Regions from separate parts of the Homo sapiens genome. Here regions 2 and 3 are each reported to be linked to region 1. The links are microRNA targets in miRTarBase. Many come from high-throughput screens and were not tested one by one. Region 1 holds a microRNA gene; each other region holds the end of a gene's coding sequence.

What was found. Region 1 holds the annotated microRNA hsa-miR-664a-5p (ACUGGCUAGGGAAAAUGAUUGGAU, at 2,148-2,171, shown strand). A microRNA usually pairs through its seed, bases 2 to 8, with sites in the 3' UTR of a target mRNA and lowers its output. Matches are read on the target gene's strand: a 7mer-m8 pairs with bases 2 to 8, a 7mer-A1 pairs with bases 2 to 7 and ends in A, and an 8mer does both.
Region 2: miRTarBase lists CRAMP1 as a target of hsa-miR-664a-5p. Seed matches in the 3' UTR shown: 7mer-A1 at 1,018-1,024.
Region 3: miRTarBase lists ZSCAN22 as a target of hsa-miR-664a-5p. Seed matches in the 3' UTR shown: 7mer-m8 at 1,090-1,096.

The regions. Positions count from the first base shown.
Region 1 is chr1:220,199,504-220,202,756 of GRCh38, reverse strand. It overlaps MIR664A (microRNA 664a), which reads left to right and starts at 2,138; the gene lies at 2,138-2,219. RAB3GAP2 (RAB3 GTPase activating non-catalytic protein subunit 2) reads left to right here. Exons shown (of 35, transcript NM_012414.4): 9 at 383-481. It overlaps SNORA36B (small nucleolar RNA, H/ACA box 36B), which reads left to right and starts at 2,081; the gene lies at 2,081-2,211.
Region 2 is chr16:1,673,745-1,676,959 of GRCh38, reverse strand. CRAMP1 (cramped chromatin regulator 1) reads right to left here. Exons shown (of 21, transcript NM_020825.4): 21 at 1-3,079. The coding sequence ends at 2,915. Among named protein-coding and RNA genes, the nearest start is that of JPT2, 2.9 kb to the left of the region's middle.
Region 3 is chr19:58,338,534-58,341,785 of GRCh38, reverse strand. It overlaps ZSCAN22 (zinc finger and SCAN domain containing 22), which reads right to left. Exons shown (of 3, transcript NM_181846.3): 3 at 1-3,252. The coding sequence ends at 2,460. Among named protein-coding and RNA genes, the nearest start is that of MIR6806, 5.5 kb to the right of the region's middle. RefSeq lists an enhancer at 2,774-3,252.

The sequences.
Region 1 (3,253 bases):
TGGCCAGGCTGATCTCAAACTCCTGACCTCAAGCGACCTGCCTGCCTCGGCCTCCCAAAGTGCTGGGATTACAGGCATGAGCCACCATGCCCGGCCTGAATTCCCTTTGATTTTTAGTAGTAGTCTAGGATTTTTAATAGTCTTCTTTAATTACTGGAGTGTTCCAGAATCTTTTGTGACAGCCAACTTAGTCTTTTAAATGTTTGCATTTTACGTGCATTGTCTTGGTGTGAATAAATCTCACCTTATGCCTTGTTTTCATTACTTTGTGTCATTATTAGCTGAAATTTTAGAATAACAAATTAGTATGGTTTTAATGTTTTTTTGTAAAACTTCATTTTATCCATAATAAGTTTGGATTGTCTTATTTTATCTTTGGTAGCTGCAGCATCAGGCAATGAGAACATACAACCACCACCATTAGCTTATAAGAAATGGGGTCTACAAGATATTGACACTATTATTGATCATGCTAGTGTTGGTAAGTATTACTAATTCAAATTCTCTTGGAATTTACTTCTTACACTTTTTATTGAAGTATCTCATTTATTAGAAATGGGCATTTATTCTTTATTTATTATTATTATTTTTTAAGATGGAGCTTTGCTCTGTCACCCAGGCAGGAGTGCAGTGGCATGATCTCAGCTCACTGCAACCTCCACCTTCCAGGATCAAGTGATCCTCCCACCTCAGCCTCCCAAGTAGCTGAGATTACAAGCATGCGCCACCCCGCCTGGCTGATTTTTGTATTTTTAATAGAGACGGGATTTCATCATGTTGGCTGGGTTGGTCTTGAACTCCTGACCTCACCCGCCTCAGCCTCCCAAAGTGCTGAGATTACAGGCGTGAGCCACTGCACCCGGCCAAAATTTATTCTTATGTGAAAAAATGCATTGCCTTTAGTGAGACATCTGGAAGTTAGTTCAGATTCAGATCATCATAGGCATATATCTTTAAAACTGGGCATGATGGCTAACACCTGTAATCCCAGCACTTTGGGAGGCCGAGGTGGGTGGATCACATGAGGCCAGAAGTTCAAGATTAGCCCGACCCACATAGTGAAACCCCGTCTCTACTAAAAATACAAAAATTAGCCAGGTGTGGTGGTGCACACCTGTATTCCCAGCTACTTAGGAGGCTGAGGCAGGAGAATTGCCTGAACCCGGGAGGTGGAGGTTGCAGTGAGCCAAGATCACGCCACTGCACTCCAGCCTGGGTGACAGAGCGAGACTCTGTCTCAAGAAAGCAAAACAAAAACAAAAAGAAATGGTAGCAGTTTTAATAAAGATTTAATTATGCCCTCAGCCACAGTATTGTACAGTTTTAAGTCACTCACTGTTTGACTAATTTTTCTACAGACAAATTTGGTCTATATAATGACCATATAAATCAGTCTTAAAAATGTAACCTTGGTCAAGTGTGGTGGCTTGCACCTGTAATCTCAGCTACTCAGAAGGCTGAGGTAGGAGGATCTCTTGAGCCCAAGAGTTCAAGACCAACCTGGGCAATATAGCGAGACCCCATCGCTTAAAAAAAAAAGTAACCTTTAAACTAGTAAAATATAGATAAAAGCAGATTTCTTCTTGCAGCCACTATAAGAGAGCTTACTGTGTTAGGTACTGAGGGTATAGAGATGTAAAGACATGCTTCTCTGTTGTCTGAAAGTGTGAGTCTAGGAGCCTGGTTAGAAGAAACACATGAGAATGGCTACAATACTACAACATAGTAATTGTAACAGACAAGGGGACCAGCTGTAGTGGGAGCAGAGGAGGACACACTTATTGTTTCTCCAGCACACCATACACTTTTATCCCTAGATCTATGTGCATGTGGGCTAGAATGCCTCCTCTGTGTTTGTTCACTTGGTCAAGTTCTACTCATTCTATGCAAACTGGACACTGGGAGAGAAAGAGCAAGGAGAAGAGGAAGGAGAGTGACTCTAAAGAGGCTAAGGATATCTGACACACAGGCCATCTTTCTATTTACTGCATAGCTCTTACATGGAATACTCTGTAATAAAAACCTATTGGTAAACATTTCAGTGTGTCTACTTTTTTGCTAGCATAAAAATGCTGCAAAATTCCAAAGTGTTAAGTTCAGTTCAGGGTAGCTTCCCTGCTCTGTTAATTAAACTTTGGAACATTGAAACTGGCTAGGGAAAATGATTGGATAGAAACTATTATTCTATTCATTTATCCCCAGCCTACAAAATGAAAAAAGGTACAATAAACGTTATTGTATGTACATCTTTATGTAGAGGTCTGGTTAATTTATTCAACAAATAAATGAGTACCTATTAATATTTGTGCTAGAAATACAAGATAGGACCCCACCCTGATAAAGCTTACGTTTTGGTGATGGGGAGACAAACAATAAACTAAATGAATATCAAACTCTTAGTGGGCATCATGAAGAAAATAAGTAGGTTATGGTAGAGAGTAAAGGAAGAGGGTGCTTTAGGTAGACTAGTGAGGAAAGGCCTCTCCAAGGACATGACATTCAGACTGAGACTTGAAGGATGAGAAGGAGCCAGCTATGGAAAGAGGTGTAGGAAGAGCATTCTAGGTAGAGGAGCATCAGGGATATAGGCCTGGGAGCCTTGAAGACCTCAGAGTGTTCAAGAAACAGAAAGGGGGTTGGTGTGACTTGACTGTAAAGAGTGAGGGGAAAACAGGACAAGGTTAGGTTGGAGATGCAGACTGGGGTTAGATCACGTAGGGATAAGGAGATCCGATTTTATTCTAAATGCAGTGGATGTCACTGATGGATTCTAAGTAGGGGATTACATTTAAACATATCTCCCTGTTTGCTGGGTAGAGAGATGCTTGTAGAAGAAAGCAAGGAGACCAGTTATTGCAATAATTCACCCAAGAGAGAATGATGGCTTTATGGTGGAGGCAGTGGAGTTGGAAGGAAGTAGACAGATTTGAGATACCTTTTGTACTTGCTCAGGGATGGTTTTGAGAAACAAGAGGAAGGAAAGAATTAAGGGTTTCTTAATTTTTAAGTTTGAGCAACGGGCTGGATGATGAGACTGTTTACTGAAATGAGAATAAGGAGGAGGAGAGGAAGAGATTTAAGGTAGTCAAATAAAGAGTTACGTTTTTACAGGTTAACTTCTGACACAGTTAAACATTCAAGTAGAGGTATCAAGTATACGAATTGGACATGAGAGTCAGAAGTTCAGGGAGGAAGCTGGGAATGTACATATAAATTTGAGAGGGAGTGGTTTACTGTGGAATGTTTCGTAGAG
Region 2 (3,215 bases), not on the chromosome of region 1:
CACCAGAAATGAGGCCACGGCCTCTCATGCCCAGAACCTGGAGGTGCGGCAAAGCAAGGAGGCCAACCGCGGAAACGCCGCCAACACCCCACTCCCTGAGCTGGCACCCTACAGCTACAAGACACAGAAGGACAAAACAGCCAGGAAGCCACGAACTAGGCATCCCCCGAGGCACGCAATGCCCGCTTATCACTGCACATCCACAACAGAATTGAGGCCAGAGGACTAACTTCCCTGGACCACAGATGCTCTGTCCCAATCTCCAGAAAAGACGAATCAACAGAAAGATCCCAGGCAACGTCAGAGGGATTCAGGAAAGCTTTTTCTAAGAAACTGATCTCATCTTAATTACAGCATGCTCAAATGCACAAAGGAAGCCACAGGCTCATACTTAGACGATCACCGCTTCTGTTGGAAAGGCAGAAGATGCAGGAAGTCTCTGTTTGGATCTTTTGAAAATTCCAGCCTTTAACAGTTGCCTATGTTTGCACATAAATATTCATTTAGGCCAGAAGAAAATGTATCCATTGTTTTTCTGCAACAAATGACACCATTTTCCCTTAATGTGGCAAGCAAATGCGTATCACCTGTCTAGTTACTAGAGAAGCAGAATCCTCTAGAACTCTTGTCAGCTTTATTACAGGAGAGGAGTCAGCCCGTCCTCCTCCCTAACCCATCTCCCCACTGGATGGCAATGGCTGCAGTTGGCTGCTCCCAGGAGTCTACGCTGGAGAACCAAGTGGTAGGTGCTGTCTAAAGAGCCTACGAAAGCAGACTCTGACCTCCAAAACTTCACCCCACTGAGTTGTCAGGGGCTAACAGGTACCCTGACAGGCAGTTCACAAACCCTCCTGTCCCTGGCACAGTGCACACAGCTCAGTGCTGTTGGGACTTGGCATCTCTGGTCTAGCCTGTGGGAGTATGAGAAAGCTAGCAGTGGCCTGAACTCGGCCTGGTATCCTAACCCTCTAGAGACGCAGCAAAGCCAGATGCCCAGAGGGAGATCTCCTTGTCTTCTCTGGCTCAATGAGATGCTAATTTTGGAAGCTGGTATACGTAGCACAAAACACAAGCTAGTGTAAAGATGCTGTAGTTCAAACACTGCTGTCTCTCTCCTAATCAAGTGGCATGTTTCTTTTTTCACCCCTAAGAGGTTTGGGACTGTTTGCTTAAGATCTCATGTCAATGTCTGAAGGAGGGAAGCCAGCTCAGGCAAGAGCTCTAAGAAAAACTCGTGAGACAAAAGAAGGAAGCTCTTGCCTGGAAGTTCACTGTCCTCTCCACGTCCTCCCAGTGGTGCAGTACACGGCCTGCCTGTGGTCTACAGTGGCTGTGGTGGGCTGGCAAGACTGCAGGACGGAGGGCGTCCACATGCTTGTCCACACCAAAGGCCTTTCCCTCCTCTTTTCACCTTCTCCATTGTGGATGGGGAGAGAAGCAGTGGAGGGGCCAGGGCTGGCCTTGAGGGCTGCAGCGTGCCACACATGTGGGGGAAGAGGAATGGTGGGGAGGAGGGAGAGTAGGTCCAAGGGGGTTAGGAAAGCACAATCAATCCCGGCTGCTGCGGGGGATGAAATGAGGCAGGAAGGGAGAGATGGCGGCACAGGCATGGCCTGCCCAACACCTCTGTAGCAGCTCCAGGCCACACTGGATGTGGATGGACGGTGACTCATGTGCCTGGAACTCCTGAGGATGAGAAGGCAAAGGGGCCCTTGTTAGCTCTGTCCTGGGGAAAGACTGGATGTTGGGCCGTCTGCAGTAGGAACGCTGGCCACCCAAGAGGGCGCAAGGAGGGAGACCACCACGAAGGCATATATTTGGTGAGGTCTGACCACATCCAGATGTCTGGGCCCTCACCTGGGTGTCCCAAATGGGAAGGAGACACAGAAGTCTCAAGGCAAAGGTATGCAAGGGACTGAACACGTATGTCAGGCACGCCCACACCAATGCCCGTGAGAGACACTTTCCCTGCAAAGGCAGGTTTGTCTCAAGTGCCAAACAGTCACACATCGAGTTTGAGAACTTATCAGGAAAGTCTTCGCTGTAATCATATTAGCGCCTAAGGGTCACCCCAGGAGGGAGAAATGACACCTTAGATCGCCTGGAAGCTTGCAAAGGGACACAGGAAGGAAACCAACTACAGAGGGGACTTTGTTCTTCCTCTTCCATGTCTCCTAATTCTTAAAACACAAGAAAAACATTTTCAACCAGCTTAGCAGGGTCCCATGTAAAGTCCACACAACCTGCATAGTACAGGACTCTTCCTGCCCCCACTCCCTGTTAAGAGTACGAACAAAACCTCTAGGGAGGGGAGGCACCAGCCCAGGGCCCCACGACTCCGCAGCAGCCCTGTGATCGGTATCCATGCTCTTGCTGCCTTGGGATGTGACACCACCAGGCATGAGCCCAGGCCACACCCAACTGTCCTGCCCGTTACAGTCCACAGAGGGCACAGCTGATGCATAGCACAGGTTTGGCAGAAAGCAAGCAGCAGGGGCTGGGGCCTCCCTGCAGAGAGGGAGATCACAGCTCCTAGTGCACAGCAACTACACCAAGGCACACATACTCCCTTGTCTCAGAAGGAAATGCCACCGGAATGTCCAACACAACAATCGAGGCAGAGCACAGGCTGAAATGGGATCATTATGCAGACCCTAACATGGGCCCAGGCGTGGTGAAGAACGGCTCTAGTACCACAGTGATTTCTAACGCTGGCCCTTGCCAAGAACTCATCCTAGTCTCCTTGGACGCCGTTGCCTGCTGCTCGTGGGGAAGCAGCTCTGTGACCACGTTCCTGCCCGTTGCACAGTCTTGGGTGCGGAGATGCCTCTGTTCAGACCATCTTCTGGGGCTGCTGGGCTTATCTATTTTTCTCTAGCTCGAAGAGGGCTTCATCCGCCACCAGGACGTGTGGTCACTGGGACAGGTCACTGACAGCGGGGCCGCCTCCACCACCATCAAACAGAGCTTCTCGGCGGCCAGGCTCAGCGATGGACAGCTCTTGGGCCAGGTCATTGAACCGAGAAATGTAATCAATGCTGTTTTCGTTCATCATGCACACCAGCTGGGAATCCACAACCTGCAGGAAGAGGAGACAGGAAGAACAAGTCACCGCGACCTGCTGGCCCTTCAGTGGAGGGCGGGTCCTGAAACAGGACGAGAAGCTCCTATCGACTCCCGCTGCAGGAAGCTAAGCTAGGGATGGCAGCCCAGGG
Region 3 (3,252 bases), not on the chromosome of region 1:
CCTTTTCTGTTCCCTCCAGCATGCTGGAAGCCTGTGCAATTTCACTAGGAATGTGCATCTCTCCTCTCTGAGTTTTCCCCTAAGCCTGTCATCCCTCTCAGTCTCTCAGCCTCTGGCACACGATATGTGGCCCTCTCTGCCTGTGTCTGGGACTCCCTCAGAGATACTTCCACAAAGTCTCTGTCTCCCTGAGTCTTACCTTCATGTTATGAACGTTTCTCATCAGTCTCTGTGCCTCTATTTACTCTTGACATAGAGGGAATGGGCCCGAAATACAGGGAGATACATATGGAGAGATGGTGACGGTGACTAGTACACAATACGCCAGGTCAAATGGTTCACATATGATGAGACCATCACAGAAACAGAGGCATGAAGAATGATACACTAACAGTAATGAACAGAAGCTGCAGCATCCAGTGATAGACAGGGACCCTAAAAATGGGACAGGGATGCAGCATTGTGAGAGAAGACCAGAGAACACATGGACAGAATGCTGGCAAAGACTAAGTCCATGACACCAGGGGATCTGGGGCCCTAGAAAATGACTCAATACAGTCACATTTTATTGAGGCCACTGCATGCCAGGCTTATTTGGGTGCTGGCCCCCAGGAAAATCAGATTATTCTTGCTCTCCAGGGTTCAAGCTGCTGGGGAGACATCCATGTAAACATACATAAGGACAATGTGGGGCAGAGACAGCACGGTGACTGCCTCCTGGGGGCACCAGTCACATTCATGTAAGAGACATCAGTCAGGGCCTACTGAGTCTTGTGTGTTGTAGATACTGAGAGTAAGACATGGCCCCTGCTCTCAGGAGTTTATGGTATCCTTGGAAAAGGCAGCTCTACAAGGAGCAAATAAGTAAAACAAGGTGGCAGGAGTTGTAAGAGAGGTATCTAGGAGGTGCTCTGGAAGCAGAGAGGGCAAGCTGAAGTCTGCTCCCGGAGAGCAGGGAGGTTTCTTTGGGCAACATTTGAAACACCTTAGATGAAAAAGGAGGGCCAGGTGCGGTGGCTCACGCCTGTAATCCCAGCACTTTGGGAGGCCGAGGCGGGTGGATCACGAGGTCAGGAGATCGAGACCATCCTGGCTAACATGGTGAAACTCCATCTCTACTAAAAATACAAAAAAAAAAAAAAACTAGCTGGGCGTGGTGGCAGGCGCCTGTAGTCCCAGCTACTTGGGAGGCTGAGGCAGGAGAATGGCATGAACCCGGGAGGCAGAGCTTGCAGTGAGCCGAGATCGCGCCACTGCACTCCAGCCTGGGCGACAGAGCGAGACTCCATCTCAAAAAAAAAAAAAGAAAAGAAAAGAAAAAGAAAAAGAAGAGGAGGGTTCCAGGCACAGGTACAAAGGCACATAAGTGGGAAAATGTATGGCTCCTTCAGGGACCACAGTAGTTCCGTGTGGCTGGTGTATGGAAGGTGGAGCCATGGTATGAGATGAGGCCATTTTCACTGCACGCACAGAAAAATGACAGTATTCATACATGCATATGAGGATAACTGGAGAGGTTGCTCGGGGCCCAGAGCAGCCTGCATCTCAGCATACTTATACCCTGTTCAGGAAGCTGTGCTGTAGAAGATGGGTTGGAGAGCTTTCCACCTTGGAGTGACACAGTCAGATCTAAGTAATATCAAGAGTCCCCTGGAGAGTGATACAGGGGCAGAGAATAAAGGCAGGAAGTGGTCAGGAAGGAGACCCCGGCTATAATCCAGGCAAGAGGCAATGAGGGCTCACATAAGGTAGCAGTGGTGGAAAAGGAGGTGAATTACAGATAAGCTTTAGGTTAAAACAATAGCGCTGGTGACTGGTGGGATGTGGAAGGAAAAGGAGAGACAGGAACATGCTGGGCAGGTGTCAAGCAGCACCACTGATTACGACAGGAAACCATGAGAGAGGCAGAGTGTAGAAAAGGCATCGTGGAAGAGGCAGTCTCAAAAGTCAGCCTTGCAGTTAGGCACAAAATAGTCTGGAGTGGAAATAGTAGGTGCCAAGGCACAGAGGTGGGCATGGCAGGTGTCCGTTCTGGGCTAAGCAGCAGAAAAGCAGGCAAGAAGAACCACATGAGAACAAGCTACAGTTGGCCCGCCCAGAGCGTCTTGGGACGCTGAGTTCTGAGAGACATGCGCCTTCATTTGCCCTGGCCCTCAGAACCAGTCTAAATCCTCAGTTCGGCTGCCTTCTCTCTGGGACAGCCCTGAGTGGGAAATAGAGGGTAGCAGTGCAGGGCCCTTCTGGAAGCTTCTCCAGCTGGCCTGAATCACCTTGTGCTCATCAGGGTTCCTCAAATGCAGAGTGGTTCCTAGACAGCCCGAGTCTGCCCTCAGGCACCTATCATTTTGACAACTCATCAATCACCCACCCTGTCTGTGGCTCTTCAGGAACTCAGCGTTTCTCTTAGACCTCGAGCCTCCGAGAAGACGCTGTGCTACGCCCCCAGGGGCGACTTCCGGTCATTGCAGCACCGTGATGTGGATCCGCAAGTGAACCATCAGGGCTGAGCTACGACTGAAGGCCTTCCCACAGTCGCTGCACTTATAAGGCTTCTCTCCCGTGTGGATCCTCTGGTGCTCAATGAGGGAGGAGCTCTGTGCAAAGGCCTTCGGACAAACCTTACACTGATATGGCTTCTCTCCAGAGTGGATTCTCAGATGTCGGATCAGGGCTGAGCAGTCGCTGAAGGCTCGGCCACACGCGTCACACTTGTAGGGCTTCTCCCCGGTGTGGATGCGCTGGTGTTGAGTCAGGTGCGTGCTCTGGCTGAAGGCTTTCCCACACGCGTCACACTCGTAGGGCCGCTCCCCCGTGTGCACCCGCTGGTGCTGGGTGAGGTGAGTGCTGCGGCTGAAGGTTTTACCACATTCCCCACATTTGTAGGGTTTCTCTCCAGTATGAATCCTTTGGTGCTGAGTCAGGTGGGTGACTCGGCTGAAGGCCTTCCCACATTCCTTACACTCATGGGGCTTCGCCCCTGTGTGGACAACCTGGTGCTGGGCGAGGTGAGTGCTCCGGCTGAAGGCTTTCCCACACTCGCTGCAGGCATATGGGGTCTTCCGAGAATGGGTCTTCTGGTGTGCCTCGAGCGCCGAAGCACTCTGGAACATCTTCCTACACTCGCGACACTTGGAGGACCTCTTCCCTGAGTAGGTGTATGGAGGCTCTGTCCCATAAGCATCCACCAGATCAAATTTGTCTTCTGAAGGAGGCTTCTCTTGGGAGGTGAGGTTTGGCCACGCACTAGAACTG